Regions from separate parts of the Homo sapiens genome. Here region 1 is linked to region 2. A link means that fine-mapping ties the variant in region 2 to the plasma level of a protein whose gene starts in the linked region. Region 2 holds a variant in brackets. A gene starts in the other region. All regions are shown on their forward strands.

Evidence for each region. PIP is the chance, under the fine-mapping model, that this variant and not a neighbour inherited with it causes the effect. The UK Biobank Pharma Proteomics Project read protein levels with antibody pairs (Olink). The fine-mapping took linkage between variants from a reference panel, not from the people measured, so its PIPs are less certain.
Region 1: it holds the start of LGALS3, and the variant in region 2 is fine-mapped to the plasma level of the LGALS3 protein (UK Biobank, PIP above 0.99).

What each region holds. Positions count from the first base shown.
Region 1 is chr14:55,126,627-55,129,499 of GRCh38, forward strand. LGALS3 (galectin 3) reads left to right here and starts at 2,626. Exons shown (of 6, transcript NM_002306.4): 1 at 2,626-2,674. RefSeq lists a silencer at 2,322-2,873.
Region 2 is chr19:5,870,030-5,872,894 of GRCh38, forward strand. It overlaps FUT5 (fucosyltransferase 5), which reads right to left and starts at 511. Exons shown (of 2, transcript NM_002034.2): 1 at 436-511. RefSeq lists an enhancer at 969-1,263. The variant G/A (reference allele first, on the strand shown) is at 1,327.

The DNA.
Region 1 (2,873 bases), not on the chromosome of region 2:
ATTTAAAAGGTGACTTTAAAAAACTGGCTTTGCTGCCGGGCGCAGTGGCTCACGCCTGTAATCCCAGCACTTTGGGAGGCTGAGGTGGGCAGATCACCTGAGGTAGGGAGTTTGAGACTAGCCTGACCAACGTGGAGAAACCCCATCTCTACTAAAAATTGGCCAGGGTGGTGGTGCATGCCTGTAATCCCAGCTACTGGGGAGGCTGAGGCAGGAGGAGAATCACTTGAACCTGGGAGTGGAGGTTGCGGTGAGCCGAGCAAAACTCCGTCTCAAAAAAATAAAATAAATAAATAAATAATCGGCTCTGCTTTCTTCTCCAATTACTGTCTTTCTTTCTCTTTTCTGCTTATCCTTAAAGACTTTCCCTTTTTGTTCTCATCTTCATCTCCTACTCTCTTCTGGCTCTAACTGAAGTTCTCACGCAGCTTCCCTCCTGACCTTCTGGACAGCCACCTGCTTTCCCAAGTTTCCTCCTTTCCCTCCTGTGGAGATGCCTCTCTTAGAATCCTTGCTTTTATCAGCGGCTTACAATCTCTGCATCCGTAGAAACCAGACAGCCTTTTTGTTTGAGGGCTAACACTTGCCTTGTCCCTATTTCAAATAACACAGTGAGCTGTACATAGAAGTTACTCAATGATATCTTAATTGATTTTATTGGGTTCCTTTTTACGCTTATCTTAGAAAAGGGATGTGACTTTGGATTGGGTAATAAAGAGCCGTTTATTGCATGTGTACAAATTATAAATTCCCAGGCACACCCTGATCATAGCAGGATCCTTTTGTTAGCTTTATGGGGCATGAAGTTGGCACCAAAGTATTCATGGGGATGTACAAGTAAGGAAGGGAAGCCAAAAGCATGTCTGATCATACAATCAGGTGTAAGCAAGCCCCCTAAGTAGCCAGGGCATGAACTTTGTCTATCTCTGAAATGACCAGAAGAAAAGGCAAGAGTGTGATTCATCCCTTGCCTCCACAGCAATTCATTTGGCTATCTACTTTTCTTATTACCAATGGCTAACCCTCTAAGGGTACCACTCCTGGCCATGAGGCCTCATGACTCAAAGTCTTAAGATTTATAGCATTTTCCCTGGAGACCAAGGGCATTCCTTTGGGTGATACCTTTTTACTACCCAGAGGTTAGTCATTTACTATGGGTGATCCATTCAAATAAATTGGTTGCCAGGCTACCTCTTCAGATAAGAGTTCAAACTTGCATAAATAATCCCCAGCCACACTGTGACTTCTATGTGCAAGCCTAGAGGGGACGATGTTGCAGGAACCGTGCCAACCACTAAGACACTTTCAAGTTTATCCTAGAGAATGCCAAGACAGCTTCTCAATTCCATCAAGTGAGTCCTTCACAGGAACATTTCCCTAAGTTGAAAAACTGCAGGAAATAATTTATCTTTATGTTATTAATTGGTTACTATAAGGGCTACAGGAATTATTTAGGAACCAGATGATACCTGGTTTTCTCCATAGTTTACATAAGCCAGTCCCTGCAAAGATTCTTCCCCTACCCCCCTTAATTTTTTTTTTTTTCCTCAGAGATCCTTGTTCCAACCTGCAAGGATTCTTTGGCCTGGTGCTTTTCCAGGTAAAGTGTAAGAGCCAGGATTTCTGGATTTTGTTCCTAGACATGAGTGAGCTTGGATAAGTAAATCATTTTCTCTTTTAGTCTGTTTGGGCTTCTGTAACAAAATATCATAAACTGGGTAGCTTATAGGCAATATACATTTATTTCCCACAGTTCTGAAGGTCGGGAAATCCAAGATCCAGGCCAGCAGATTTGATGTCTGGTGAGGGCCTGCTTTCTGGTTCACAGAGGGAGCCTTCTGGCTGTGTCTTCACAAGGTGGAAGTGGCAAGGGGTCTCTCTCCGGCCTCTTTTATTAGGGCACCAATCTCATTCATAAGGACCCTGCCCCTATGACCTAATCACTTCCCAAGGCCTCCACTTCCTAATACATCACCGTGAGGGTTAGGATTTCAACATATGAACTTTGGCGGGATATAAACATTCAGACTATAGCACCCTGACAGTAAAAATGAGATAATAATACTTATCTCTTTCTTCCAACAAAAAGATAAGGTGAAGTTAAAAGGAGGGTATATATATATATAATGTGAATTTCCTGTGTAAAATGTGTTAAAGAGTTGTCTGATTAATTGCTTTATAAGGGAATTGCTTTGAGACTAGGCCTATTGATCTAGAATAAGTAGTCAATTTGTAGTCAGTTCCCTAGGGAATAGACATTGAAAAGATTTTTGGTTTTGTATTCTACAAATAAAGCAACCTATTAATTGAATTCCTCTCAGCGAATTCTTCACTCAGGTGATTCTGGAGAGGGCGGGGGACAGACGCGGCCGCAGCCCAGGTCCCGGGAGCGCCACGGAACCTAACGGTGGCAGCGGAGGTCGCGCCCCTCAGTGCCCGCGCTCTCCCCGTCGGGAGCTTCCTGGTCGCCCCTGCGGCGGCGGCTCGGGGTGTCTGGCCGGCGCGGGGCTCGCCCAGCCTGGTCCGGGGAGAGGACTGGCTGGGCAGGGGCGCCGCCCCGCCTCGGGAGAGGCGGGCCGGGCGGGGCTGGGAGTATTTGAGGCTCGGAGCCACCGCCCCGCCGGCGCCCGCAGCACCTCCTCGCCAGCAGCCGTCCGGAGCCAGCCAACGAGCGGTGAGCTGCGCGGGGCGCGGGGGACGCGGCTCCGGCCGGGCAGGGGAGAGGGCGCCCGGGCGCTGCTTGGGGCGCGGTCCGGAGAGGGTTCGGCTCCCCGGGACCGGGCCGGGGCGCGCGCGGAGAGCCCCACAGCCTGTGCTCTGCCCTCCAGGAGCGGGGCGGCGGGCAGCGATCTGGGCCCGGGGCAGTCGCCTTT
Region 2 (2,865 bases):
CACTCCAGCTTGGACAACAAAAGCTAAACTCCATCTCAAAAAAAAAAAAAAAAAAAAAGAAAAAGAAAAACATTAAATTTCCTGGTATTCTTTTTTAATGTGGTTGCTGGGAAGTTTTCTTTCTTTCTTTCTTTTTAAAATTATTATTATTTTTTGAGATGGAGTCACCGTGAGCCACTGTGCCTGGCCTATTGCTGGGAAATTGTAAATTACATTCGGGGTAGAAAACAGTTTGGTGCTTCCTTGAAAAGCCTGAGAGATACTTATCACATCACCAGCAATCTCCCTCCTAGGTAGAAGCCCCAAAGAATTAACAACAAAAGGACGCAAACAGATACTTGTACACCCATGGTCACAGCAGCCTGACTCACAACAGAACAAACAGCCCAAAGGTAGAAACTACCCAGATGTCCATCAATAGAAGAACAAATATACCTAGTGTGATCCATCCACACAATGGAATATCACTCAGCCATGAAAAGGCTGGGCGAGGTGGCTCATGTCTGTAATCCCAGCACTTTGGGAGGCCGAGGCAGGTAGATCACGAGGTCAGGAGATCAAGACCATCCTGGCTAACACGGTGAAACCCAGTCTCTATGGAAAATACAAAAAAATTAGCTGGGCATGGTGGTGGGCGCCAGTAGTCCCAGCTACTTGGGAAGCTGAGGCAGGAGAATGGTGTGAACCCAGGAGGCGGAACTGGCAGTGGGCCGAGATTGTGCCACTGCACTCCAGCCTGGGTGACAGAGTGAGGCTCCGTCTCAAAAAAAAAGAGAAAACCTGTCTCTACTAAAGATATAAAAAAAAGAGCCGGCATGGTGGCACATGCCTGTAATCCCAGCTACTTGGGAGGCTGAGGCAGGAGAATTGCTTGAACCCGGGAGGCAGAGCTTATAGTGAACCAAGATTGCGCCACTGCACTCCAGCCTGGGCAACAGGGCAAGACTCTGTCTCAAAAAAAAGAAAAGGAGCGAGGCTCCCACACAGGCCACAGCGTGGATGAAGGCTGAGGACATCACATTCAATGACAGAAGCCAGACACAAAATGCCACACAGTGTGTGATCCCATTTCTGGGAAATGTCCAGGACGAGCCGATCCACAGAGACAGGAAGTAGAACAGAGGTGACTGGAGGCTGGAGAGGGGAGAATGTTTGTTTAACGGGTCCAGAGTTTCTGTTTGGGGTGATGAAAGTTTTGGAAAGATGCTGGAGTGATGGTTGCACAACACTGCACGCGATGCCACTGAATTGTATGCTTAAAAATGCCTAAATGCGCCAGGTGCGGTGGCTCACGCCTGTCATCCCAGCACTTTGGGAGGCTGAGGC[G/A]GGAGGATCACCTGAGGTCAGGAGTTCGAGACAAGCCTGGCCAACATGGTGAAACCCCGTCTCTACTAAAAATATAAAAATTAGCTGGGCATGGTGGTGCACACCTGTAATCCCAGCTACTCAAGAGGCTGAGGCAGAAGACTCACTTCAACCCAGGAGGCAGAGGCTGCAGTGAGCAACAAGAGCAAAACTCTCTCTCATAAAAAAAAAAAAAAAGCCTAAATGGTGAAGTTTATGTTATACATATATGTATGGATATATGGAATTACAATTTAAAAATAAGGTGGCTGGGCGCGGTGGCTCACACCTGTAATCCCAGCACTTTGGGAGGCCAAGGCGGGCGGATCACCAGGTCAGGAGATTGAGACCATCCTGACTAACATGGTGAAACCCCACCTCTACTAAAAATACAAAAAGAAATTAGCCAGGCGTGGTGGCGGGCGCCTGTAGTCCCAGCTACTTGAGAGGCTGAGGCAGGAGAATGGTGTGAACCCGGGAGGCGGAGCTTGCAGTGAGCTGAGATAGCACCACTGCACTCCAGCCTGGGCGACAGAGTGAGACTCCGTCTCAAAAAAAAAAAAAGGTAACACACCAAAAACCATTGACTTATTTACTTGTACACCTTAAGTTGGCTCACTGTATGGTATGTGAATTACATCCTGATGAAACCGTTTATTTATTTTTGAGACTGAGTCTTGCTCTGTTGCCCAGGCTGGAGTGCAGTGGCACAATCTCAGTTCACTGCAACCTCCACCTCTGCGTTCAAGTGATTCTCCTGCCTTAGCCTCTCAAGTAGCTGGGATTACAGACACACACCACAATGCCCAGCTAATTTTTGTATTTTTAGTAGAGACGGGGTTTCACCACGTTAGCCAGGCTGGTCTCGAACTCCTGACCTAAAGTGATCCACCCGCCTTGGCCTCCCAAAGTGCTGGGATTACAGGCATAAGCCACCACGCCCAGCCGATGAAGCTGTTTTAAAATGATGTAGGGTTGCCAGCTTTCTCTGTTGGGCCAAGTTGGTCTTAACCTTGCAGCAGGTGACCTGGGTGTGATGAAGTGATCCAGACACCCAGTCCCAAGCTCATGCCAAGGTTCTGGAAAGAGATTCAAAACACAAGCCCTCAGGGCACAGTCCGAGCCCAGAGTGGGAGGGAGGTTGAACTTTGACCAATTACTGCTTTGTACCATTGGACTCTAGAGCCTCAGGCACAGGTTAATTTTTATTTTTAAGACGGAGTCTCGCTCTGTTGCCCAGGCTGGAGTGCAGTGGCACTATCTTGGCTCACTGCAAGCTCCGCCTCCTGGGTTCACGCCATTCTCCTGCCTCAGCCTCCCGAGTAGCTGGGACTACAGGGCCCGGCTAATTTTTTGTATTTTAGTAGAGACGGGATTTCACCGTGTTAGCCAGGATGCTCTTGATCTCCTGACCTCATGATCCGCCCGCCTCGGCCTCCCAAAGTGCTAGGATTACAGGTGTGAGCCACTGCGCCCAGCCAGGCACAGGTTAATTTTTATAAAGTAATTGATATTAAGATG